Regions from separate parts of the Homo sapiens genome. Here region 1 is linked to region 2. Evidence: fine-mapped expression QTL. A gene starts in region 2. The other region holds a variant in brackets. All regions are shown on one strand. Distances are from middle to middle.

What was found.
Region 1: its variant is fine-mapped to the expression of MFSD12 in lung (TOPMed, PIP 0.95).

Annotation. Positions count from the first base shown.
Region 1 is chr19:3,487,146-3,500,464 of GRCh38, reverse strand. DOHH (deoxyhypusine hydroxylase) reads left to right here. Exons shown (of 5, transcript NM_001145165.2): 2 at 3,579-3,924; 3 at 6,361-6,437; 4 at 7,966-8,203; 5 at 8,654-9,641. The coding sequence starts at 3,651. The coding sequence ends at 8,973. It overlaps LOC105372245 (a long non-coding RNA gene), which reads right to left and starts at 4,350. Exons shown (of 4, transcript XR_936262.3): 1 at 4,311-4,350; 2 at 3,422-3,514; 3 at 2,852-3,107; 4 at 1-530. LOC105372246 (a long non-coding RNA gene) reads right to left here. Exons shown (of 5, transcript XR_936264.2): 2 at 12,210-12,337; 3 at 10,055-10,373; 4 at 9,849-9,943; 5 at 9,104-9,190. RefSeq lists a silencer at 6,123-6,323. The variant G/A (reference allele first, on the strand shown) is at 3,222.
Region 2 is chr19:3,554,460-3,568,848 of GRCh38, reverse strand. MFSD12 (major facilitator superfamily domain containing 12) reads left to right here and starts at 11,263. Exons shown (of 10, transcript NM_174983.5): 1 at 11,263-11,743. The coding sequence starts at 11,446. RefSeq lists an enhancer at 10,424-10,718 and silencers at 10,828-11,377, 11,418-11,487, 11,668-11,837.

The sequences.
Region 1 (13,319 bases), 68 kb after region 2:
TCGTTGACTGTGGATGGGGCGGGTTAAGGGGTCTCGAGTCCCGGCGATCTCTTTCCTCTGGGATTTTTTACATGAAAGAGTGCCCACCTCACGTCCTGAAGCTCCTATGTCGTACGGTTGGGTCTCAATGGTCCCCAGTGCCCTGCCAGCTCGCACAGGCCTGCCCTCTGGTTTCTGATGACCCCTCTTTAAAGGTGTCACTCTCCTTTGATGGTCACCTGTGCTTAGGTGGCTACACTGCCCTCGTCAAGCCCAGGCAGCCTTGCTGACGCCACTGTTCACCAGAGAGGGCTGCCAGCATGCCATAGCCAGCCTGTCTTGAGATGAAGCATCCGCCAGGTTCTCAGCCGATCTGGAAAGAGAGGGGTCCCTTCTCCCCTTGGCTGTGTTCTTTTATCCTAAGTCATTCAACAAAGCGTTGGTGGTTTAGAGCCCGACTCTGGAGCCAGACTTCCTGGATTCCTAACTCTTCACGCTGCTCCCAAGCAAGTTCCCAAGCACAGTCCCAAACTGTGCCTCAGTTTCCTCACCTGTAAAATGGGGACAATCTTAGTAACTACCTCACAGGGTAGTGATGTAGATCGAATGAATTAATGAATGTAAAGAGCATGGAGTGCCTGGCGCGTAGCAAATGCTACATAAGTGTCAGCTGCTATTGTCACGGTTGTCGTTTTTATTTTATTTATTTATTTTGAGACAGGGTCTTGCTTTGTAGCTCAGTCTGGAATGCAATGGCACGATCTCGGCTCACTGCAACCTCCGCCTCTCGAGTTCAGGCGATTCTCCTACCTCAGCCTCCCGAGTAGCTGGGATTACAGGCGCCCACCACCACGCCCAGCTAATTTTTGTATTTTTAGTAGAGATGGGGTTTCACCATGTTGGTCAGCTGGTCTCGAACTCCTGAACTCAGATGGTCTGTCCACCTCGGCCTCCCAAAGCGCTGGGATTACAGGCGTGAGCCACCGCGCCCAGCCGGTTATTGTTTTTATTGAGGCCCTACTGCGTGCAGGTCATTGCACTAAGTGCTGGGAATACAACAGTGACCAAGATAGACTCAGTCCCAGCCTTCAGAGTTCTATTCTAATGAGGGATAAGACCAATCACAAGCAACTAAACCAATACTTTCCAATATGATATCTAGGAGTCTTAGGCGCCGTGGAGAAAAATAAAGCTGAATAAGTGAAAAGAGATGGAAGAGTAACATTGTCCATTGTGATCAGGGAAGGCTTCCATGAGGAAGTGATGTTGGAGACCCAGGAAAGCAAGAGGATGAGCACGGGTGTTCCTGGACCAAACTGAGGGTCGGGCTGCTATTTCTCATGGTCCAATAACGAGATGCAGATTAACTGGGGAGGAAGAGAGTTTTTATTTCTGTAACCGGTTACAGGGAGAAGGCCTGGAAAATATCGCCAGACCAACTCAAAATGACAAAGTTTTCCAGAGCTTATATACCCTCTAAGCTCTCCATCTACATGTAACTGAGCATCCATCTAAAGACTTAAAGTGACTAACTTCTTTTAATCTATAACTAAGATCTGAATCCTGAAGACTTTCCTTTGGAACCTCAGTAAATTTACTTAATCTAAATGGGTCCAGGTGCTGGGGTGATCACCCTTATCTCATCTCCAGTGGGTCCAGGTGCTGGGGTGATCATCCTTATCTTGTCTCCTGCTAAATCATGGAGGTTTGGGGAGTTCTTCAGACACCCAGTAAAACTTGTTTCATCCTAAACGGGTCACATTAAGAATTCCTTCGTTATTGGCTGGGTGTGGTGGCTCAAGCCTGTAATTCCAGCAGTTTGGGAGGCTGAGGCGGGTGGATCACCTGAGGTTGGGAGTTCGAGACCAGCCTGACCAACATGGAGAAACCCTGTCTCTACTAAAAATACAAAATTAGCCGGGCATGGTGGTGCATGCCTATAATCCCAGATACTCGGGAGGCTGAGGCAGGAGAATCACTTGAACCCTGGAAGCATAGGTTGTGGTGAGCCGAGATAATGCCACTACACTCCAGCCTGGGCAAAAGAGCGAAACTCTGTCTCAAAAAAAAAAAAATTCCTTCATTATCTTGTCATGCCTTAAGGCCCAGGAAAGGCCTGGGCAAAACTCTTCATGGGCTTTTGTTACATTCCAGCCTTTGTATGAGGGCACTGGCTCTTTTAGCTTTTAATGTTTAACTTAACCACTCAGTCAGTGCTGAAACAGTTATGGAGGCCTGTGTTAGTGAGGCCTGGCCTGCTACGTGGGGACATCTAGGGAAGAATGTTCCTCATGGAGATCACAGCAAATGCAAAGGCCCTAGGGCTGCACTGGGCCTGGCGTGTTGGAGGAACAGCGAGGAGGCCTGTGTGGCTGGAGTGGAGCTAGAGAGGGAAGAGGTGATGGGAGATGGTCATGAAGGGCCTTTGGGACTGTCAAGTAGTTGAGTGAGGAGGCATAGGAGGATTTTAAGCAAGGGAGTGATATGGTCCAGTTTACATATTGAAAGTACTTCTGAATCTGTTATCTAAGCTGTGTAACAAAAATCCCCATAATGGCTGGGGGTAGTGGCTGATGCCTGTAATCCTAATGCTTTGGGAGGCTGAGGCAGGATGATCACTTGAGCTTGGGAGTTGGAGACCAGCCTGGGCAACATAGAAGTGAGACCCCATCTCTACAAATAATAAAAAAAAAATTAGCTGGGCATGCTGGTGTGTGCCTGTAGACACAGCCACTAGGAAGTCTGAGGCAGGAGGATCACTTGAGACTGGGAGTTCGAGGCTACAGTGAGCCGTGATCATGCTGCCGTACTCCAGCCTGGCGACAGAACAAGATCCTGTCTCAAAAACAAACAAAAAAACATACTTGGTTACCTTCAACAACAGTAAACAGTGTCGCACACAGTTGCTCTGGGCCTGGCTTAGCTGGCTGGCTCTGGGTCTGGCCTCTGGTAAGGCCTCAGTGGAGACGCTCTGGGGCTGCATCATCTGAAGGTTCGCTTGGGGCTGGACGAGCTGCTGCCAGCCCACTTCTCTCACATGGCTGTTGGTGGGAGGGCTCAGTTTTTTGCCACGTGGGCCCCTACAAAAGACTGCTTGAGCATCCTCACAACATGGTCACTGGCTTCCCCTAGAGAGAGAACAAGGATGAGACTGTTGTGCTTTTTATGCCCTAACCTTGGAAGTCTTGCTCTGTTCCATCTTCTTGGCATTCACATGGGTCAGCCCTGTTCAGAGTGGGAGA[G/A]GACTATATAAAGCCTTGAATATTGGGTGGGGATCGCTATATAAAGCCTTGAATATTGGGTGGGGATCGCTAGGGCCATTTTGGGGGTCAGCTGTCCCTCTGGCTGCTGTGTGGAGAGCAGACAGTGGAGGTCATTTCTGATAGGCCTATAGGCGAGAGGCAGTGCAGAGACTGAGGCCCAGAGAGGGAAAGCAACTTACGGAAGGCTGCACAGCTAGTAGGGAGGTTGGAGCTGAGCTTTCAGCGTAGATGCTCAGGTTGGTCAGTGGGTAGGAATTTGCCCCACCCAGGTCCTAGGAACAGACAACGCACTGGTGAAGGGGGCTTCTAACCTGGGCTCTCATTTTTCTGCCACAGGTTCTTACATCCCCGCGTCCCCAGGTTTAGCCTGAGCAGGGTTGTGGAAGGCCGGGACCCATTGACAGCACGATGGTGACGGAGCAGGAGGTGGATGCCATCGGGCAGACGCTGGTGGACCCCAAGCAGCCCCTGCAGGCCCGCTTCCGGGCGCTGTTCACGCTGCGTGGGCTCGGCGGCCCAGGCGCCATTGCATGGATCAGCCAGGCCTTCGATGACGATTCCGCCCTGCTCAAGCACGAGCTGGCCTACTGCCTGGGCCAGATGCAGGATGCCCGCGCCATCCCCATGCTGGTGGACGTGCTGCAAGACACCCGTCAGGAGCCCATGGTGCGCCATGAGGCAGGTGAGCACCTGTCTGTGTCCCGGGCACCTGCTCCCTCCTGCCTCACTTCTTCATGACCCCACGTGTCCCCTTCCTCACTCAGGTGATAAATATCAGAGTGGTCAACTGCCCCATAGAGCACCAGATAGTAAATACCTGCAGCTCTGCAGCCAGACAGCGACTCAATAAAGCCAGCGCAGGTCATCTGTCACCAAATGGCTAAGGCTGTGTGCCCAGACAACCTCAACTGGGCAGGGGGCGGTGGCTCAGGCCTGTAATCTTAGCACTTTGGGAGGCCCAGGAAGGTGGATCGTTTGAACTCAGGAGTTCAAGACCATCCTGGGCAACATGGCAAAACCCTGTCTCTAGAAAAAATACAAAAATTAGCCAGGCATGGTGGCATGCACCTGTAGTCGCAGCCACTTGGGAGGCTGAGGCGGGAGAATCGCTGGAGCCCGGGAAGTCAAGGTTGCAGTGAGCCATGATCGTGCCACCGCACTCCAGCCTGGGCAACAGAGTGAGATCCTGTCTGTGAAAAAACAAAAAACAAACTTCATTTGTAAATGCTGAGATTTGAATTTCATATAAATTCCACCCATCAGGAAGTACTATCCCTTTGATTTTTTGTTTTAAACCATTTATTTGTTTGTTTTGAGTCAGAGTCTCACTCTGTCGCCCAGGCTGGGGTACTGTGGTGCCGTCTTGGCTCACTGCAACCTCTGCCTCCCGGGTTCAAGTGATTCTCCTGCCTTAGCCTCCCAAGTAGATAGCGTTACAGGTGTGTGCCACCACGCCTGGGTAATTTTTGTATTTTTAGTAGAGATGGGTTTTGCCATGTTGGCCAGGCTGGCCTTGAACTCCTGGCCTCAAGTGATCCACCTGCCTCGGCCTCCCAAAGTGCTGGGATTACAGGCATGAGCCATCGCACCCCGCCTTAAACCCTTAAAAGTGTTTTAAAAACCATTCTTTGCTCGTATAAAAACAAGCGACAAGCCATAGATCCCCAATCCCTAATGTATATTAGATTTACTCCACTCATTGGACACACATTTAGTGAGCACCTACTGTATGCCAGGCTCTGTCATGTAGTAAGAGACAAAACAGTGACAATACAGATACAAGCCGGGCATCGTGGCTCACGCGTGTGGTCCCAACTACTCAGGAGGCTGAGGCAGGAGGATTACTTGAGCCAGGGAGGTTGAGGCTGCAGTTAGCCATGATCATGCCACTGCACTCCAGCTTGGGCAACAGAGTGAGACCCTGTCTCAAAAAAATGGACTGTTCAGGTCGGGTGCATTGGCTCACGCCTGTAATCCCAGCACTTTGGGAGGCTGAGGCGGGTGGATCACCTGAGGTCAGGAGTTCAAGACTAGCCTGGCCAACATGGTGAAACCCCGTCTCAACTAAAAATACAAAAAAAAGTAGCTGGGCGTGGTGGCCGGCGCCTGTAATCCCAGCTACTTTGGGAGGCTGAGGCAGGAGAATCACTTGAACCCAGGAGGCGGAGTTTTCAGTGAGTGGAGATCGCGCCATTGTACTCTAGCCTGGGTCACAAGAGCGAAGCTCTAAAAAAAAAAAAAAAATGGACTGTTGTAGCGAGGGACCTAGACAGCGAAGGAGACCAGTGAGGCAGGTAGTTGGTGCGTCTGTGCCACTGGGACTGTGTTTCTGTAACCAGTGAGCTCATTTGCAATTAGCGCGTGGGAGGTGCCTGACACAGAGCCTGTGTTGGCGCATACGGGACTTTTCCCGGCAGAGGGAGCCTGCCAGGCAGGTGCACAAACGCAAACCGCAACCTTCAGGAAAGGCAAAAGCCACCAGCTCAGCTGCCTCACAGGCAGGGCCCTTGAGCTCGATTCTGAGAAAATTCAAGGAACATCTGCACCCAGGGCTCTACGGGGAGCCGCCGCCAGCCTTGCTCCGACCTGGGCTTGCGACGCCTGCACTTGCGCCTGTACCCGAACCCACCTAAGTGTAGCCCCAGTGGCCCCAAATTCTGGAGTCTCCAGCCGGCAGGCCCGGCCTGTTTTGGGAATTTTTTTTGTTTGTTTTTTTGAGACAGGGTCTCACTCTGTCGCCCATGCTGGAGTACAGTGGTGTGATCATAGCTCACTGCACCCCCGACCTCCTGGGTTCTTGGAGCTGCTTGTCAGCTGTGATCCCGAGTTGTAGGGATATACTTGTCTCCCTGTCTCATGGTACGGGCCGGGATGGGGTCCATTTTGCTCTGAGCGGCAGCCAGGTGCGGTTCCAGGCAGTGCCTTGCTCTGGGGAGGGGATGCTGATTGGTCCAGCGGGGAGCCTGTACCGACTGCTGCTCCAATCAGCCGTGGACAGAGGCGGGGCTTCCCCACAGTGGCAGAGCCCTGGGAGGGGTGTCCTCCGGTCCCAGAGGTAGCCGGGCATTTTCCACACATCCACCCCACCAACATGAGCTCTCCGGCTGCTTCTTCCCAGGGGAGGCCCTGGGGGCCATCGGGGACCCGGAAGTTCTGGAGATCCTGAAGCAGTATTCCTCGGACCCCGTCATCGAGGTAACCAGGCCCCTGCTTGTCTCCCTGCCAGTCTCGGGTCCCTGGGAAGCCCTGCCCAGCCCTGCCCCAGCCCTGACCTGGAGCAGCCTCAGACCCTCCCCATCTCTGGTTGCCAGGGCGACCACTTGGCCAAGGATGCCCCAGGGATGAGGAAGGCGAGGGCGACAATCTGGACAGACACTTGCTGCGCCCCATTTGGCAAAACGGCGACAACCAGCTTTGCTCACCCGCTTCCATCCCGGGCCTTGAGCCCCTGAGCCGGCCTGACCCCCTTTCTCTGAACCCCCACGTCCAGTCCCTCTGCCAAGACCCCTCTGAACCCACCCAGTGCCCTCTACCTCTGATACCTTGTCCTGGCCCACCAGACCTCTTCAGAGATCTCCTGCTACCTTCCAACATTTCTTCTTTTTTTTTTTTGAGACGGTGTCTCGCTCTGTCGCCCAGGCTGGAGTGCAGTGGGCGCGATCTCGGCTCACTGCAAGCTCTGCTTCCCAGGTTCATGCTATTCTCCTGCCTCAGCCTCCAGAGTAGCTGGGACTACAGGCGCCTGCCACCACGCTCAGCAAATCTTTTCGTATTTTTAGTAGAGACGGGGTTTCACCATGTTAGCCAGGATGGTCTCGATCTCCTGACCTCGTGATCCACCCGCCTTGGCCTCCAAAGTGCTGGGATTACAGGCGTGAGCCACCGCGCCTGGCCCAAAAATGAAACAAATTTTTATTTTATTAGTTTTTTCTTTATAGAGATGAAGTCCCGCTCTGTCGCCCAGGCTGGTGTTGAACTCCTGGGCTCAAGCGATCCTCCTGCCTTGGTCTCCCTAACTGCTGGGATTAGGGGCATGAGCCGCTTCGGCCGGCCCGTCATTCCTTTTTGTGGCTGAGTCACGTTCCGTGGTGTGGACGGCCCATGCTGTGTCCACTCACTGTGGCTGGATGCTTGAATTGTCTCTGCTTTTTAGCTGTTATGAGTTATGCCGCCACGGACATGCATGTTCCTTTCTCCCCTGCCACTTCTTGTCCACATCCCACCCCGACCCTCAGTCTCTCCTCCTCCGGGGCAGCCGGGGGTACGTGTGACACTCAATTCTGCTGTTCTGTTCCATGCTTAAAGCTCTCACGATATCTCATCACCTTTAGGACAAAATCCCAAGCCCTTACAGTGGCCCGCAGGCCTTACCTGGTCAGGTGGGGCCGCACATGTTCCTTTGGCCCTCACCCCTCCCGCAGGGTCCTGCCTCAGGGCCTTTCCACCGCTGCTTCCCCATCCCCGGGTCTCCACCTGATTCCCTCCCTAAGCTGGCTTAGGTCTCTGCCTCCACATCACCTCCTCCCTGAGGCCCTCCCCAGCCCTCCAGTCCCCCGGTCACTCACAAGTCAGCCACCCCTGCTGGCTTACTTCCTGCCTGGAATGATGGGTTAGTCACCCTGCCAGTGTCTCTCTCCCCTGCTAAGCTGCCATCCCGGGGGGTGGGGAAGGGCCCCTGCGACCCCCCAGGGCCAACCCGCTGCCTGATACCCCCTCCCCGCAGGTGGCCGAGACCTGCCAGCTGGCCGTGCGCAGGCTGGAGTGGCTGCAGCAGCACGGCGGGGAGCCGGCGGCGGGACCCTACCTCTCCGTGGACCCTGCCCCGCCGGCTGAGGAGCGTGACGTGGGGCGCCTGCGGGAGGCGCTGCTGGATGAGTCCCGGCCGCTCTTCGAGCGATACCGCGCCATGTTCGCCCTGCGCAACGCGGGAGGCGAGGAGGCCGCCCTGGCGCTGGCCGAGGGTGAGGAGGGGCTTCTGGGGTGGGGTCCTGGGCAGTGCCTCGCTGTGAGGTTCAGTGATGGCATCTGTGCAGTGGGGCCGCGGCCTGCCCCCGGGAACGGCATCCCGGGCCTGGCCCCAAGCATTTCCCATGGGGCCTCTTAAGAACCCGTGCAAGCGTCCCTCTTGGTCCCCATAGCTCCCAGCTTTTCCCGCCCCCATAGCTGCGGTCAGTTCCCCCGGGCATCCCTAATCACTGGGGCTGGGGGCAGGGGTGTCTTCAAGGTAGAACACCCCAGGTTGGGCGTGGTGGCTCACGCCTGTCGTCCCAGCACTTTGGGAGGCCGGGATGGGAAGATCGCCAGGACTTTGTGACCTGCCTGGGCAAGATAGCAAGACCCCATGTCTTCGAAAAGACAGAGCTCCCCTTCCCACCCCTCCTGGCCCCAGCGAGTGTCCCTCTCCCCTGCAGGTCTGCACTGTGGGAGCGCCCTCTTCCGCCACGAGGTCGGCTACGTCCTGGGACAGCTGCAGCACGAGGCGGCGGTGCCCCAGCTGGCGGCCGCCCTGGCCCGATGCACCGAGAACCCCATGGTGCGGCACGAGTGCGCGGAGGCCCTGGGCGCCATTGCCCGGCCCGCCTGCCTGGCCGCGCTGCAGGCTCACGCGGACGACCCAGAGCGCGTGGTGCGTGAGAGCTGCGAGGTGGCTCTGGACATGTATGAGCACGAGACCGGGCGGGCCTTCCAGTACGCGGACGGCCTGGAGCAGCTGCGCGGGGCCCCCTCCTAGGGCCCCACCCTCACCCGGAGCTCCCGGAGGACTCTTGAGGGCCGCTCCTCCCCCGCAGAGCTTTGGCGTCTAAACCGGGTGTGTGTAAATCGGTGTCATCGCTTGTGTCTTGCTGGGCGCATGGTTGCTGTCCCCCTCCTCCGTCTGGGACCGAGGAGCTGCCGTTGTGCTGTGACTCCCTGAGTCCCCTGACTGCTCCTCGGGGCCTGGCGCAGGGCTGTAGCGTGGAAGTTTCCAGGCTTGGGGTGGGACTCTGCGGGAGGCTCTGGGATGCCCGGCTCAGGACAGGGGAGGATTGCGAGGGAAGCCAGGGGAGGATCGCGAGGGAAGCCAGGGGAGGATCGCGAGGGAAGCCAGGGGAGGATCGCGAGGGAAGCCAGGGGAGGATCGCGAGGGAAGCCAAGGGAGGATCGCGAGGGGAGCCAGGGGAGGATCGCGAGGGAAGCCAGGGGCAGAGCTGGGGCTCTGGGAAGAGGCTGACGTTATGGTGGCTTCAGCTTCACTAGGAATGGGACACAGGGTCTGGGGGCCTCTGACTCCCCCACCCCGAGGCCTGGGTAGGGACAGGGTGGTGGTCCCTGAGTGGGTCAGGTAGGGCACAGGGGCCAGGGAGGGACAAGCAGACCTCAGAGCGCTGCCCAGATGGAATATTAAATTATTTTTGCCAAGCACTGACTCCTCTGAGTGTGTTGGGTGAGGGGAGCGTGGGAGGGAGGGAGGGGTGGGGGCTTTCAGGGAACGTTCCCCGAGAGTGTGTGGCGTCTGGGCGGGGAGACGGTTGTATCCGCAGCCATTGGCTCTAGGATCTGTCCTGCTGCTGACACTGAGCCACCACCAGCGACAGGCAGGCCTGCACCTGTTTTATGTGCGGTTACCTGGTCAGATCTGCCCAGCCAGCTCCCTCCAAGTGGGCTCTGGGGAAACAGCCCTCCAGCCTGGCCCTTCCCGGACCCCCGTCTTCCCCCAGCTCCTGTTGTGGGTGCAGTGGAAGGGGTTCTGTGGTCCAGCTGAGAGCCCAGACATGGCTTCCTCCGCCGGCTCCCGCAGCCCTTCCATGTGTGGCTGGGGACAGCCCACTTACCTCTCTGTAAAATAGGCATAGCGGTAGAATCTCAGGTGCAGAGCTCCTGGTCTGCAGCCAGAGAGGCCAAAACCAGAAGACAGGAGGCAAAACGCAACGGGAACCGACTATCCACTGAGCCATGTTCTCCACCGGAGTGCTGGATCCTGCCCCGGGGCATCAGTTTAGCTTGTCATGGGGTGGGGGGTGGGGGTGTGCAGCTGGCATCTAGTCAGGTAGTCGGGGGAGGCCAGGGATGCTGGAAGATAACCTCCAGCACTCGGTCCCCACAACAGAGAATGATCCGGCCCCAAATGAGTGCAGAGGTTGAGAAACCTGCCTGGAAGTCACATGTTTGATTATAGGTTTTTAATTTTAATTTATTTTATTATTTTTGTTGAGATGGAATTTCACTCTTATTACCCAGGCTGGAGTGCAATGGCGTGATCTCGGCTCACTGCAACCTCTGCCTGCCAGGCTCAAGCACTTCTCCTGCCTCAGCTTAACAAGTAACTGGGATTACAGGCATGCACCATCATGCCCAGCTAAATTTTTTTTTTGTTTTTTTTTTTTTTTCGAGATGGAGTCTCGCTCTGTTGCCCAGGCTGGAGTGCAGTGGCACGATCTCCACTCACTGCAAGCTCCGCCTCCCGGGTTCACGCCATTCTCCTGCCTCAGCCTCCCGAGTAGCTGGGACTACAGGCGCACGCTGCCACGCCCGGCTAATTTTTTGTATTTTTAGTAGAAACGGGGTTTCACTGTGTTAGCCAGGATGGTGGATGGTCTCGATCTCCTGCCTCGGCCTCCCAAAGTGCTGGGCTTACAGGTGTGAGCCACCGTACCTGGCCTGTTTGTATTTTTTAGTAGAGACAGGCTTTCACCATGTTGGTCAGGCTGGTCTCAAATTCCTGACCTCAGGTGATCCACCCGCCTCGGCTTCCCAAAGTGCTGAGATTACAGGCATGAGCCACCACACCCAGCCTTTTTTTTGCCTCCCCCCGAGATGGAGTCTTGCTCTGTCACCCAGGCTGGAGTGCATTGGCGTGATCTCAGCTCACTGCAACCTCTGCCTCCCGGGTTCAAGTGATTCTCTTGCCTCAGCCTCCCAAGTAGCTGGGATTACAGGCACGTGCCACCATGCACGCCCAGCTAATTTTTGTATTCTTAGTAGAGATGGGGTTTCACCATGTTGGCCAGGCTGGTCTTGAACTCTTGACCTTGTGATCAGCCCGCCTTGGCCTCCCAAAGTGCTGAGATTACAGACGTGAGCCACTGCGCTTGGCTCACTTTTTTTTTTTTTAAATGGAGAGGGTCTCCCTCTGTCTCCCAGGCTGTAGTGCAGTGGCTGATCACTGCAGCTTACTGCAGCCTCAACCTCCTGGGCTCAAGCGATCCTCCTATCTTGGCCTCCCAAGCAGTTGGGACCTCAGGTTTGCCCCACTGTGCCTGAGTAATATTTGTATTTTTTTGTAGAGACGGGGTCTCAGTATGTTTTGTTCTGTGTTGAGACAGGGTCTCACTCTGTTGCCCAGGCTGGAGTGCGGTGGTGCAATCTCAGCTCATTGCAACCTCTGCCTCCCAGGTTTAAGCAATTCTTGTGCCTCAGCCTGCTGAGTAGCTGGGACTACAGGCACATGCCTCTATGCCTGGCTGATTTTTGTATTTTTAGTAGAGACAGGGTTTCACCATGTTGGCCTGGCTGGTCTTGAACTCCTGGCCTCAAATGATCTGCCCTCCTCAGCCTCCCAAAGTGCTGGGATTATAGATATGAGCCACGTGCCTGGCCATCTTGTTTATGTTTTAGAGACAGAGTGTTGCTCTATTGCCCAGGCTGGAGAGCAGTGGCTCGATCTAAGCTCGCTGCAACTTCTGTCTCCCAGGCTCAAGTGATCCTCCCACCTCAGCCTCCTGAGCAGCCAACATCCATTCTACTATGGTTCCGTGGGGCTCTCTCTCTTGCGATCTGTTCTGTCACTTTCTTGTTGGCCTCCAACCTCCCTCATCCTCACTCAGCTGATGACCTTGCTTTCGGCTTCAGTGAAAAAATCAAGCAGACCTTCCGCACACCCCACCAACAGCTGTGCCCGCCTGCCTGTCCCTGTGCCGTGCATGCTGCCTCCCCTCCTGCCTGCTAACGCTGGCTGATGAACTGTTGGTTCTGCTAGCCAAGACTTACCTAAGATCCTTGTGGCTGTGCAACAGATTACTCCAAACTTAGCAGCTTCAAACAGCTGGACTTGGGTCAAATCGTGTCCCCCGAAAAGGCTTGTCCAGGTGGTAACCCCTGGTACCCATGAATGTGACCTGATTTGGAAATAGAGTCTTTGCAGGTGTTGTTAAGGATCTCAGCATGAGATCATCCTGGATTTAGGGTAGACCCTACATCCAATGACCAGTGTCCTTACAGAGACAGAAAAGTGGACCTGAGCACAGAGGCACATGCCTATAGTCCCAGCTACTCTAGAGGCCAAGGCAGGATCGCTTATGCCCAGGAGTTCAAGACCAGCCTGGGCACCATAGTGAGACCCCCATCTCTTTAATTAAAAAAAAAAAAAAAAAGACAAGGCCGGATGCGGTGGCTCACACCTGTAATCCCAGCACTTTGGGAAGTCAAGGCAGGTGGATCACCTGAGGTCAGGAGTTCGAGACCAGCCTGGACAACATGGTGAAACCCCATCTCTACTGAAAATACAAAAATTAGCTGGGTGTGGTGGTGCATGCCTGTAATCCCAGCTACTCAGGAGGCTGAGGCAGGAGAATCACTTGAACCCAAGAGGCAGAGGTTGCAGTGAGCCGAAATCGTGTGCCATTGCGCTCCAGCCTGGGTGACAAGAGCAAGACTCCATCTTAAATAAAGAAGACAAGAAAACCCCCAGAGACAGAGGAAAGAAGACAGATACCTTTCCTGTGGGTCACGAGTCTGGGAGCAGCAAGCGTATCTGGATGTTTCTGGCTTTGGGTGTTTCATGAAGTTGCAATCAAGCTGTCGGCCAGGGCTGCCTCATCTGAAGGCTCAACTGGGGCCGAAGGAGCCACTTCCAAGGTGGCACCTTCCAATGTGACATTGGCTGCCTGAGCCACCTCTTTTCCTCACCAACTCCTCGTCCTTCTCATCAACTCACAGCCATTACTTCAGCCCTTCCCCCTTTTCTCTCCTGCCTCCTTGGTTTCCTCTCTTTACCCATCAACACAGACCAGCTGCAATGTTTTTAAAACAACAAGAAAAAGCTGGGCACAGTGGCTCACACCTGTAATCCCGGCATTTTGTGAGGCTGAGGCAGGTAGG
Region 2 (14,389 bases):
ACCTGTGCATTCTGTGGGGACATGACTCCACCCACAGCACATGCCTACACACGTACACATGTGCGTATTCCTAATAAAGACGTGGGCTGGGCGCGGTGGCTCACGCCTGTAATGCCAGCACTGTGGGAGGCCGAGGTGGGTGGATCGCTGGAGGTCAGGAATTTGACACCAGCCTGGCCAACATGGAGAAACCCTGTCCCTACTAAAAACACAAAAATTGCCAGGCACGGTGGCTCACACCTGTAATCCCAGCACTTTGGGAGGCTGAGGTGGGAGGATCACGAGGTCCACAGTTCGAGACCAGCCTGGTCAACATGGTGAAACCCCATCTCTACTAAAAATACAAAAATTAGCCGGGCGTGGTGGCGGGCACCTGTAATCCCAGCTACTTGGGAGGCTGAGGTAGGAGAATAGCTTGAACACGGGAGGCAAAGGTTGCAGTGAGCGGAGATCCCGCCACGGCACTCCAGCCTGGGACAGAGCGAGACTCCGTCTCAAAAAAAAAAAAAAAATTTTTTTAACGTGAATATATATTTTTTATTTAGTCATTTTTGCTTACAGTTGAAACTCTAGAGAATCTGCGTGAAACTAGATGGCAGCCGGCTCATAAAGGTTCATTTGGACAAGGCACAGCAGAACAATATGGAACACAAGGTTGAAACTTTTTCTGGTGTCTATAAGAAGCTCATGGGCAAGGATGTTAATTTTGAATTCCCAGAGTTTCAATTGTAAGCAAAAATGACCAAATAAAAAATGTGTATTCACAGTTAAAAAAAAAATTCTACAAAAAAGTAAAACCACAAAAATTAGCTGGGCATGGGGGTGCACGCCTGTAGTCCCAGCTACTCAGAAGGCTGAGGCAGGAGAATCACTTGAACCTAGAGGCGGAGGTTGCAGTGAGCTGAGATCGTGCCACTGCACTCCAGCCTGGGTGACAGAGCGAGACTCCCTCTCAAAAAATAGTAAATAAATAAATAAAAATATAGGCTGGGCGTGGTGGCTCCCGCCTGTAATCTCAGCACTTTGAGAAGCCAAAGTGGGCCGATCACCTGAGGTCAGGATTTCAAGAACAGCCTGGCCAACATGGCAAAACCCTGTCTGTACTAAAAATACAAAAAGTAGCCACGCATGGTGGTGCACACCTGTAGCTCCAGCTACTCAGGAAGCTGCGGCACAAGAATTGCTTGAACCTGGGAGGCAGAGGTTTCAGTGAGTCAAGATCGAGCCACTACACTCCAGCCTGGGCGACATGGCGAGACTTTGTCTCAAAAAAATAAATAAATAAATAAAGTGAGGTCCTGGCCAGGTGCAGTAGCTCACACCTGTAATCCCAGCACTATGGGAGGCTGAGGCAGGAGGATTGCTTGAACCCAGGAATTTGAGGCCAGCCTGGACAACATAGTGAGACCCTGTCTCTACAAAAAAAAATAATAATAAAAGTAAGCAAACAAATGTGAGGTCCTATTCTGCTGTGTATTATACCAGTGCCTTCATGCTGTAAGCTTCAACTGCAACCAGTTCTGTTTACTCAATAATATCGCTCAGATAAAGGGTATTTTTTACTATTATTATTTTTTGAGACATGGTGTCTCGCTGTGTCACCCAGGCTGGAGTGTAGTCATCGGATCTCAGCTCACTGCAACCTCGAACTCCTGGGCTCAAGTGATTCTCCTGCTTCAGCCTCTCGAGCAGTTGGGACCACAGGTATGCACCACCACATCTGGCTGATTATTTTAATTTTCGTACAGATGGGGTCTTGCTTTGTTGCCCAGCTCCCAGGCTAGAGTGCAGTGGCTCAGTCTCAGCTCCCTGCAACCTCCACCTCCCTGCAACCTCCACCTCCCGTGTTCAAGTGATTCACGTGCCTCAGCCTTCAGAGTAGCCAGGGTTACAGGCACACATCGCCATGCGAGACTAATTTTTGTACTTTTAGTGGAGATGAGGTTTTGCCATGTTGGCCAGGCTGGTCTCAAACTCCTGGCCTCGTGATCCTCCTGCCTCAGCCTCCCACAGTACCACAGTACCACAGTACTGGGATTACATGCCCCCATTAATTTTTTTTTTTTTTTTTTGAGATGGAGTCTCTCTCTGTCGCCCAGGCTGGAGTGCAGTGGCGCCATCTCTGCTCACTGCAAGCTCCGTCTCCCGGGTTCATGCCATTCTCCTGCCTCAGCCTCCCGGGTAGCTGGGACTACAGGCGCCCGCCACCACACCCGGCTAAGTTTTTGTATTTTTAGTAGAGACGGGGTTTCACTGTGTTAGCCAGGATGGTCTCAATCTCCTGACCTCGCGATCCGCCCGCCTCGGCCTCCCAAAGTGCTGGGATTACAGGCATGAGCCACCGCGCCTGACCTTAAATTTTTAATAGATATTAATCAACATGGATGTGTGGACTTTTCTCCACCACCCAGGGAGAGTCAGGGTGTGGTTGGTTCTCCCAGGCCACGGACAATCTCAAGCCTCCTGGGGCTTTTTATAGAGGCAACTTCATACAGGCATTGCTTAAACAGATGCTGGAGAGCTGAGAAGGCGACAGGGAAGCGGAAAGAGAGCTACTGCCCCTAGCATCCCCTGGCCCCGGGGCTGGCAGAACACAGGGCTGGTGGGACAGGGATCTCAGGCCTCTGAGGAGGGGCACCCCACTGCTGCTGGGCCCTCAGGAACTCAGGGAAGCAATCTGAGCCTCAACTGTGGGACTTGGGCAATTTACTCAACTTCTGTGCCTCAGTTTCTCCATCTGTTAAGTGGGATAATTGCTTTGTCTACCTTTATGACGTTGCTGGCTGGGATTGTCCAGGGAGAATCAAACACCTGTTACAGAAAACGCTCTAGCTCAGTGGTTCTCATCCGGGGCCAACTCTGTCACGCCAGGAAATACCTAGTAATGTCTAGAGAGATTTTTCATTGTCGGACTAGGGGGGTGCTACTGGCATCTACACGGTTGAGGCCAGAGATCCTACACGGCCCCCACCACAAAAAATGATGTCCCAAACGTCAGGAGTACCGAGGTTGGTCAGGCACAGTGGCTTACGCCTGGAATCCCAGCACTTCGGGAGGCCGAGGCGGGCGGATCACCTGAGGTCAGGGGTTCGAGACCAGCCTGGCCAACATGGCGAAACCCCATCTCCACTAAAAAGACAAAAAACTTAGCCGGATGTGGTGGCACACGCCTATACTCCCAGCTACTCGGGAGGCTGAGGCAGGAGAACTGCTTGAACCCAGGAGGCGGAGGTTGCAGTGAGCTGAGATCGCACCGGTGCACTCCTGCCTGGGCGACAGAGCGACTCTCCGTCTCAAAACACAACACAACAACAAAAAGCTCCGAGTTCCAGGCCCTGCCGTGCCAGGAGGTCACCGCGCTTCGTTACAGCTCCTCCCCGTTTTGCTCTCAGCGCAAGGACTGACCAGCATCAACGTTAAAACGTAAATCACAAGACTCACAGAATGCGCTCCTTCTGGCAATGGTAGACCAGATACTGAACAGGACCTGAGGCCAGGAGGGTCCTGGCAAAGACTGAGTCACGCAAAGACTGACTGAAGAGGCCGGGCGCAGTGACTCACGCCTGTCATCCCAGCACTTTGGGAGCCCGAGGCGGGCAGATCATGAGGTCAGGAGTTAGAGAGCAGCCTGACCAACGTGGAGAAACCCCCGTCTCTACTAAAAATACAAAAACTTAGCCAGGCGTGGTGGCAGGCACCTGTAATCCCAGCTACTCAGGAGGCTGAGACAGGAGAATCGCTTGAACCTGGGAGGAGGAGGTTGTGGTGAGCTGAGATCGTGCCACTGCATTCCATCCTGGGCAATAGAGCAAGACTCCGTCTCAAAAAAAAAAAAAAAAAAAAAAAGAGTTCGTCCTTCCTTCCCTCCCTCCCCATCCTTTTTTTTTTTTTTTTTTTGAGACTGGGTCTCACTCTGTCGCCCAGGCTGGAGTGCAATGGCGCGATCTCAGGTCACCACAACCTCTGCCTCCCAGGTTCAAGCAATTCTCCTGCCTCAGCCTCCCGAGTAGCTGGGATTATAGGTGGCCACCACCATGCCCAGCTAATGTTTTTTTTGAGATGGAGTCTCACTCTGTCGCCGAGGCTGGAGTGCAATGGCCAGACCTCGGCTCACTGCAACCTCTGCCTCCCGGGCTCAAGTGATTCTCCTGCCTCAGCCTCCCGAGTAGCTGGGATTACAGGCATGCACCACCAGGCCTAGATAATTTTTTGTATTTTTAGTAGAGATGAGGTTTCACCATATTGGCGAGGATGGTCTCAGACTCCTCATCTCAGGTGACCCACCTGCCTCGGCCTCCCTAAGTGCTGGGATTACAGGTGTGAGCCACCGCGCCCGGCCAAGTTGTGTGGTTGAAGCCTCCTGGTATTCTGTTTGGTTCGGTTACTCTCACCTCACCCCCATTTTACAGAGAGGGCAACTGAAGCTTGGTGGCTTGTCAGGGACTGCCCAGATTTGATCCTGGCTTTGCTCCCCTGCTCCCCCGCCTCCACCGTGGCCACCCTCAGATATAAGGAAGTTTCAGTGCAGCCTCAGGAACCCTCACTGCCCACCCCCCCACCTCTGTCACCCCAGGCCTGGGTCACAGAAGATCAAGGAAGCCTCTAGTACTTGACATTCCCCACCCCACCCCGAGGCTGGACTGCGGCCATCAGGACATCCGATGTCCGGCCAGGGGAGGGGGAACGCAGGCTTGGCGTCAGGGGGCTGCTGGTGATGGGCTGGGGACATCAGACTGTGAGGATCTCTCCTGACTCCTCTGTCCTACCCCGAGGGCCTGAGCTTTCATCATGCCTTCCTGACATCTCTAGACAGGGCCTTCTCTGATCTTTACCCTCACGTCCAACCCCCACTCTTGTTGGGGCACATGTCCTCTCCTGTGGCTTCCCCACGCACGCAGCTGAGGCCTTCATTTGGAAGAAGCCCTTCCTCATCTCCCACTGGACTTTTTAATCTGACTCAGTCCCACCCTCCCTCTAACCCCTACCATGGCTCCCTAGTGACCTCAGGGTAATGTCCCAACTCCTCACCTACCTTGTAACCGCCCTTCTTGGTCTGACTCCTCCAGTCCTGTCCCTGATGAGGGGAACTGGGAGGGGTCATCCCTGTCTCCCCTCAAAAGCAGGGGCTTCAGAATCTTTGGGGCTCCTCAGCAAGAGGTCAGACCTAGTTCCTGCTCACCCCACAAAGTCAGGGCTAGGAAATATTAGCTGGCTTCAAAGGGACAAAAACAGAGGCCAGGTGCCGAGGCTCATGCCTATAATCCCAACACTCTGGGAGGCTGAGCCGGGAGGACCACTTGAAGCCAGGTGGTCGGGACCAGCCTAGGCAAAATGATGAGGCCTCATCTCTACAAAAAATTTAAAAATACTTTGGGTGGCCAGGCGCAGTGCCTCACACCTGTAATCCCAGCACTTTGGGAGGCCGAGGCAGGGGGATCATGAGGTCAGGAGATCGAGACCCTCCTGGCTAACACAGTGAAACCCCATCTCTACTAAAAATACAAAAAATTAGCCGGGCGTGGTCGTGGGCGCCCGTAGTCCCAGCTACTCAGGAGGCTGAGGCAGGAGAATGGCGTGAACCTGGGAGGTGGAGCTTGCAGTGAGTGGAGATGGCGCCACTGCACTCCAGCCTGGGCGACAGGCGAGACTCCGTCACAAACAAACAAACAAAAATACTTTGGGTGGCCAGGCGCGGTGGCTCACGCCTGTAATCCCAGCACTTTGGGAGGCTGTGGCAGGCGGATCACTTGAGGTCAGGAGTTCGAAAGCAGCCTGGCCAACATGGTGAAAACCATCTCTACTAAATATACAAAAATTATCTGGGGGTGGTGGCGCTCGCCTGTAGTCCCAGCTACTCGGGAGGCTGATACAGAACTGCTTGAACCCAGGAGGCAGAGGTTGCAGTGAGCGGAGACTGCGCCATTGCACTCCAGCCTAGGTGACAAAGCAAGACTCTGTCTTCAAAAACAAAAACAAAAAAACTACGTTGGGTATGGTGATTCATGCCTGTGATCTCAGCACTTTGGGAGGTCAGGAATTTCGAGAACCGACCCACAACATGGCGAAACAGCAACATGGCGAAACCCCGTCTCTACTAAAAAATACAAAAAATTAGCCGAGCGTGGTGGCAGGTGCCTGTAAGCCCAGTTACTTGGGAGGCTGAGGCAGGAGAATCGCTTGAACCCGGGAGGTGGAGGTTGCGGTGAGCCGAGATCGTGCTACTCCACCCCAGCCTGGGCGACAGAGCAAGACTCAGTCTCAAACAACAACCACCACAACAGCAAAAGGACAAGAATGCAGAGATGTGTTGGCGCTTTAACCACACCCTGCCTCCTCCGCTGGATCTTCTCCAAAGGGAGGCGGGATTGTGCCTGATTCTCGACCTACAAAGGAGGCTGAAAAAGCAGTGGACAGTGAGGCACCTGTTCCTCCACACTCAGGTGGCATTCCGCAGCCAGCACATAAAGAGGTCACGTGGAGCTGAGTTCAAATCCCACATCTGCCTCTTGTTAGTCCCATGCCCGCCACAGTCCCATGCCCATGCCCGTCTTTGTGAAACTCAGTTTCCTTATCTGTAAAAGAGGCATGAAGGGCTGGGCGCAGTGGCTCGCACCTGTAATCCCAGCACTTTGGGAGGCCGAGGCGGGCGGGTCACCTGAAGTCAGGAGTTTGAGACCAGCCTGGCCAAGATGGTGAAATCCCGTCTCTACTACAAATACAAAAATAAGCTGGGCGTGGTGGCGGGCGCCTGTAATCCCAGCTACTCGGGAGGCTGAGGCAGGAGAATCGCTTGAACCCGGGAGGTGGAGGTTGCAGTGAGCCGAGATCGTACCATTGCACGCCAGCCTGGCGACAAAGTGAGACTCCATCTCAAAAAAAACAAGAAAAGGCAGTGGAGGGGGTCATGAAGGCTGCACACTGTGCCTCACGTCTGTAATCCCATCTCTTTGGGACCAGTCAGGGCAACATAGCAAGACTTCCATCTCTGAAAAAATTAGCCAGGTGTGGTGGCAGGCACCTGTAGTCCCAGCTACTCAAGAGGCTGAGGCAGGAGGATCTCTTCAGCCCGGGAGGCCAAGGCTACAGTGAGCTGTGGTCACACCACTGCACTCCAGCCTAGGTGACAGAGCAAGACCCTGTCTCTAAAAATAAAAATTAATAATAAAATAAAATAATAGAGCATGAAGTGGTGTAAGACCTCCTAGGGATCTTGTGGGATGAAAGGAGATGAGGAATGGGAAAAACATTAGTTTTTTTGTTTTTGTTTTGAGACTGAGTCTCACTGTGTCACCCAGGCTGGAGCACAGTGGTGCGATCATAGCTCACTGCAGCCTTCGTTTCCTGGGCTTCAGTGATCCTCCCACAGCAACCTCCGGAGTAGCCAGGACTCCAGGTGTGCACCACCACACCTGGCTAATTTTGTTGTTGTTGTTGAGACAGGGTCTTCCTCCGTCGCCCAGGCTGGAGTGCAGTGGCGCGATCTTGGCTCACTGCAACCTCCACTTTCTGGGTTCAAGCGATTCTCCTGCCTCAGCCTCCGGAGTAGCTGGGTTACAGGCACCCACCACCACGCCTGGCTAATTACTGTAATTTTTTTTTTTTTTTGAGATGGGGTCTTGGTCTGTCCCCCAGGCTAGAGTGCAGCGGCACGATCTCAGCTCACTGCAACCTCCACCTCCCGGATTCAAGCCGTTCTCCTGCCTCAGCCTCCCGAGTAGCTGGGATTATCTGCGCCCGCCACCACGCCCAGCTAATTTTTGTATTTTTAGTAGAGACAGGGTTTCACCATCGTGGCCAGGCTGGTTTCGAACTCCTGACCTCGTGATCCACCCGCCTTGGCCTCCCAAAGCGCTGGGATTACAGGCGTGAGCCACCGCGCCTGGCCCAATTTTTGTATTTTTAGTAGAGACGGGGGTCTCACCATGTTGGCCAGGCTGGTCTCGAACTGCTGACCTCAAGTGACCCCTTCACCTTGGCCTCCCAAAGTGCTGGGATTACAGGCGGGAGCCAGGATCCCTGGTCCCTAGGCTAATATTTCAAAAAGTCATCTTTCATTTCCCTCAGAGGACTCTAAAGGGGAACGTGCCAGGAGGACTCTAAGTGGGAACGTGCCAAACAGAGAGGAAGGAATTGAGGTTCTTATCTCTCCTCAACCCTTTATCTCCCCGAGTCGTCTGCCCCTTATCTCTCCTCCTTCCTTTCTAGGTTCTGTGTCTTGACCTCTTTTACCCCTCCCGCCCATTTTCAGTCTAGTTTTCATAAAACAGTGTGTGACCTGCATCACCGTGGGCAGCCGGGGCCGTGGACCCCTTGGCTGTTTGAGCCTTGGGTTTTGTTTTGTTCTGGTTTTTGAGACGGATCTTCGCTCTGTCGCCCAGGCTGGAGTGCAGTGGTGCGATCTCAGCTCACTGCAACCTCAGCCCTCCCAGGTTCAAGAGATTCTCCTGCCTCAGCCTCCCAAGTAGCTGGGATTACAGGCACAGCCACCACGCCCAGCTATTTTTGTATTTTTAGTAGAGATGGGTTTTCACCATGTTGGGCAGGCTGGTCTCGAACTCCTGAGCTCAAGTGATCTGCCCACCTTGGCCTCCTAAAATGTTGGGATTACAGGCTTGAGCCACCGCACCTGGCCTAATTTTTAAAATTTTTTATAGAGATAGGGTTTCAGCACATTGCCCAGGCTGGTCTTGGACTCCTGGGATCAAACAATCCTCTCACCTCGGCCTCCCAAAGTGCTGGGATTACAGGCATGAGCCACCATGGCAGGCCAATTATATAACTCCTGTACCCGTTCTAGATCAGGGGAGACCCAAGCTCCAAGAGGTTAAAAGACTTGTCCCAGGCTGGGCGCAGTGGCTCACGCCTGTAATCCCGGCACTTTGGGAGGCCGAGGCGGGCAGATCACAAGGTCAGGAGATCGAGACCATCCTGGCTCACACGGTGAAACCCCCGTCTCTACTAAGAATACAAAAAATTAGCCGGGCACGATGGCGGGCGCCTGTAGTCCCAACTGCTCCGGAGGCTGAGGCAGGAGAATGGCGTGAACCCGGGAGGTGGAGCTTGCAGTGAGTTGAGATCGCGCCAGGGCACTCCAGCCTGGGCGAGAGAGCCAGACTCCGTCTCAAAAAAAAAAAAAAATAAAATAAAAATAAAATTACAAAAATTAGCCGGGCGTGTTGGCGGGCACCTGTAATCCCAGCTACTCAGCAGGCTGAGGAAGGAGAATCTCTTGAACCCAGGAGGCGGAGGTTGCAGTGTTCTGAGATCGTGCCACCGCACTCCAGCCTGGGCGACAGAGCCAGACTCCGTCTCAAAAAAAAAAAGACTTGTCCCAAGTGGAGCAGCAGAGAATCAGTGGAACCAAGTCTGGATCCAACGATTCTCCTTCCATACTGCAAGGACCTTTTGTTTTGTTTTGTTTTGTTTTAGAGCTGGGGTCTTGCTGTTGCCCAGGTTGGAGTGCAGTGGTGCAATCATACCTCACTGCAGACTGCAAGGCCAAATATACTGCTGTAGGCCGGGCGCGGTGGCTCGTGACTGTAATCCCAACACTTTGGGAGGCCAAGGCGGGTGGGTCACTTCAGTTCAGGAGTTTGAGACCAGCCTGGCCAATATGGGGAAACCCCGTCTCTACTAAAAATACAAAAATTAGCTGGGCGTGGTGGTGGGTGCTCGTAGTCCCAGCTACTCGGGAGGCTGAGGCAGGAGAATCGCTGGAACTCGGGAGGCAGAGGCTGCAGTGAGCTGAGATTGCAACACAGCACTCCAGCCTGGGTGACAGACGGAGACTCCATCTCAAAAAGAGAGAGAGAGAGAGAAAGAAAGAAAGAAAACTGCTGGAGACCCGCCCGATGCAGAGGCTCATGTTTGTAATCCCAGAGCTTCTGGAGGCCAGGGTGGGAGGCTTGCTTGAGACCAGGAGTTTGAGGTCAACCTAAGCATCATAGTGAGACCCTGTCTCTCCAAAATTAAAAATACAAAAGTTAGCCACATGTGGTGATGCGTGCCTGTAGTCCCAGCTACCTGGGAGGCTGAGACAGGAGGATTACTTGAGCCCTGAAGATTGAGGCTGTAGTGAGCCATGATTGCACCAATGCACTGCAGCCTGGGCCACAGAGCAAGACCGTTTCTTTCTTTCTTTCTTTCTTTTTTGAGGCGGCGTTTCACTCTTGTTATCCAGGCTGGAGTGCAATGGCGCGGTCTTGGCTCACTGCAACCTCTGCCTCCTGGGTCAAGCGATTCTCCTGCCTCAGCCTCCAAAGTAGCTGGGATTACAGGCACCTGTCACCACGCTCGGCTAATTTTTGTATTTTTAATAGAGACGGGTTTCACCTTGTTGGCCAGGCTGGTCTCAAACTCCTGACCTCAGGTGATCCGCCCGCCTCGGCCTCCCAAAGTGCTGGGATTACAGGCGTGAGTCACCGCGCCCGTCTCAAGACCCTGTTTCTGAAATAAATAAAAAGAGGAAAGAAGAGAAAATGCTGCTGGAAGGAGTAGGGCCTGAGTTAGGGGGAACCGCACACACCCCCTGGAGGAACTTGAAACCCTCAGTCCGGTGACCCGTTTGTGGGAGGACGTTGGTTGGACGGGGAGGGTCGCGCGCACAGGCCTGGGAGTCACAGACGCCTGACTCACTGCGAGCCTCGGGCAACTCTGTTCCTCGCCTGTAAAATGAGAGTGAAATTTGCGTCACCACGTGGGGCTCTTTGCAGGCAACGCTCGTTAAAGGCCAGCTGGTACTATTATGTTGATTACCCCCATCATTACCGTTAGTAACCAATTAATTAGTGTTGTTGCGTCCTCTCCGCGCCCGATCGCGTCTCTCTAGGCCGGGGAGTCAGCGGACCCCGAGGCCAGCTCGGGCTCAGACCTCCCCCCAACCCCAAATCCAGAGCCCGTCCCACTCGCTCCACCCCGGCCCGCAGTGGGCTGTCCAGCTCCGGGTGGACTGGGGTGGTGCGGGCCTGGAGGCCGGGTCTGGGTGGGAGCCGGCGGTGCCCTCTGGTCCATTTCCTTCCCCAGTCTATGGGGGTGCCGGCCACTCCTGCGGCGCGCTCGGGGTTCGCCCTCATACCCGGCGGGCGCTAGGACCGCGTGGGCGCCCGTCGTAGAGGCGGAACGAGCCCTGCGGCCACGCCCCTCTCCTCTCTCCTTGGCGATTGGCTGCGGTTCCCCGGGGCGCGGCTCCGATTGGCTCAGGCACCGGAACCTCCCCGCCCTGCCCCGCCCGGCGCAGTCGCCCGGCTCTGGGGCCCGGCGGCTGCAGAGTCGAGCGTGGGGCGGACGCGGCGGACGTGGGTGAGGGCGCGGCCGTAAGAGAGCGGGACGCGGGGTGCCCGGCGCGTGGTGGGGGTCCCCGGCGCCTGCCCCCACGGCACCCAAGAAGGCCTGGCCAGGGTACCCTCCGCGGAGCCCGGGGGTGGGGGGCGCGGGCCCGGCGCCGCGATGGGCCCGGGACCCCCAGCGGCCGGAGCGGCGCCGTCCCCGCGGCCGCTGTCCCTGGTGGCGCGGCTGAGCTACGCCGTGGGCCACTTCCTCAACGACCTGTGCGCGTCCATGTGGTTCACCTACCTGCTGCTCTACCTGCACTCGGTGCGCGCCTACAGCTCCCGCGGCGCGGGGCTGCTGCTGCTGCTGGGCCAGGTGGCCGACGGGCTGTGCACACCGCTCGTGGGCTACGAGGCCGACCGCGCCGCCAGCTGCTGCGCCCGCTACGGCCCGCGCAAGGCCTGGCACCTGGTCGGTAAGCGTCCCGGCCCCGCCACCTGTCGGGCAGCCCCTCCGAGACTCCGCGACCCGGGCGCCTCCTCCCTCTGACTCACCACCCGCCGTCTGCCTGCCTCAGGATCGGAGTCTCCCCTCGGTCTGTCTGTCCCGTGGCCCGAGCTTCCCTGCACTGTCTGTCCACGGCCTTAACCTCCCCTATGTATCTGTCTGCCCTATGAGCTGAGTTTTCACCCCTCTGTCTGTCCCCTGGCCCGAACCTCCCCTGTCTGTCTGTCTGTGCCCATGGCCTGAGCTTCCTCCATCAGTCCCACCACCCAGCCCCCTCTCTCTGCCTGCCTGGGACCTAAGTCTCCCCTGTTTGTCTGCCCCATGAGCTGAGTTTTCACCCCTCTGGCTGTTCCGTGGCCTGAGCCTCCCCCGTCTGTCTGACTACCCAGTGGCCCCTCTGTGGTGTCACTCCTGAGCCTCCCCTGCCTGTCCCACCATCCAGCATCCCCCGTCTTTCTGCCCCATGGCCTGAGCCTCCCCCGTCTGACTGTGCTGTGCCTCCCCCATCTGTCTGACTGTGCAGTGCCTCCCCCATCTGTCCAACTGTGCAGGGCTTCTCTATCTGCCTGAGCCATGAGCCTCCCCCATCTGTCTGTTTAACTGCCCCGTATCCCCTCTGTCTGTCCCTTGGTCCAGCCTCCCCTGTCTGCCTCAGAGCTGCTGTCTGACCTGCGGGGCCCTCACCATCTGACTACATGACTTTCTAGTGGGAATGCCTTTGTTTGTCTGAGCCCCCGGGCCACCCTGAACCCTCTGGAGGGTTGGTGGTGACTGCTCAGCGCCTCCTTTGTCAGTCTGTCTAGCCTGAGCTCGTCTATTAGGGTGACCAACTGGGACAGCTATGGCTGAGGGACAGTCAGGCCCCCTAGAGCCTCCTCTCTCTCTGTGTGTTCTGCCAGGGCAACCTGGTGCGTCAGCAGTTTGAGGGTGCTGCTCCGGGAGTTGAGAGTTGGGAGCCGCCTGGGTGGGACTGGAGGGTCAGGGGTCTCTGCCCTGTTCTTGCATTGCCTCTATCTGTCTGGCCAGGGTCAGGGACCCCCTAGGTCTGGGGGAGCTGCCCTGATTAGAGAGGGCTGTTGGGAGGGCAGGAGGCTGGCGTCATGGGCTGGGTCACCCTGCCCCAGTGCCCATCGATAAGACTGCAGGGCTGCCTCCCAGCGGCCCTCCTCTCCCCTCCCGGACCCTGGGCCTGAAGATTAGCCGGCCTCCTTCCCTGCTCTTCTTGCCCTCACAGAAGTGCCGGCTGCGTCCTGGCATTTGGGACACATGTGGCATTTCAGCAGGCAGGGCCAGGAATCCTGCTCAGTTCTTGGAATTCCAGGTGGCAGGAGGGGCAGGCGGGTGCCTCCTCACCCTTGGGAACAATGACTGGGATGGGTGGTTGGACCCAGGATCTGGGTGATGACATTTTTTGCAAGAGGCAGTGGATCTCCAGTGGTCTGAGGGTGGCAGGCTCCGCAGCAGGCACAGCTTGGGGACTGGAGTTTCATGTTTCCTATGTCCAGGCTATTCCTGGGGTACCTGAGGCGGCGGCAGACAGGGAGGGGACCGGCTGTCCCTTCCTTTGTGGTTACGTTGGGATTGGTTGCTGAGCGGAGCCCAGGGCCCCAAATGCCTCTTTGATCATAATAGTTGGATAAGCTCTTTGACAGTCGCGTAAGATAATTTCTGGGCGGGCCGGGCACGGTGGCTCACCCCTGTCATCCCAGCACTTTGGGAGGCCTCCTCACCTGAGGTCAGGAGTTTGAGACCAACCTGGCCAACATGGCAAAACCCCGTCTCTACTAAAGTACAAAAATTAGCCGAGCGTGGTGGCGCACGCCTGTAATCCCAGCTACTTGGGAGGCTGAGGTGGGAGAATCGTTTGAACCCGGGAGGCAGAGGCTGTAGTCAGCCAAGATCGCGCCACTGCACTCCAGACACAGCGAGAGTCTGTCTAAAAAAACAAAAAACAACAACAACAAACCAAAACAAGAAAACAAACAGAAACAGCAACCGAAGGCTTTATGTTTTTCCAAAGCAGACCTCAGGGAACCAGGTGGTCCAACCGGACACCAAGGCGTCCACCGTCACCCCTCTTCCCCGCCTCGGGGAGGGCACCTGCCCTGGGAGCTGAGAGGTGGGGGCCACCTGGGTGGGCCTGGAGGGTCAGGAGGGTCTGTTGGGAGCAGAAGCCCAGGCAGCCGCTCTTGATGCCTGAGCAGGTGACTTGAGTGAAGGTTACCCTGGCAATGGCACCCACTTCTGTATTTCACCCCCAAGTCTGGGGCTGGTGGCTAAGGACTCACTTTGCCCTTTAACAAGTCCTGGGGAGCTCCCCCACAATCCCGAGACGACCCTCAGAATCAGACACAAACACTCCTGTGAGTGGGCAGATGGCACAAATGGGCTTCAGAAGGAAGGACATTAACTTTGAGGTTTTGACGGATGGGTAGCAGTGTGTGGAGGGGCGCATTCCAAGTAGCAGAAACAGCTGTGGAAAAGGTAGGAACAGTCCTCACTTTGAAGCTGCGGAAGCAGGAAGTGGTTCAGAATAGACGGAGCTTTTGCTGGTGCCACACATGAACTCTATCCTCACAGCAGCCTGTGAGGCAGGAACTTTCTTTCTTTTTTT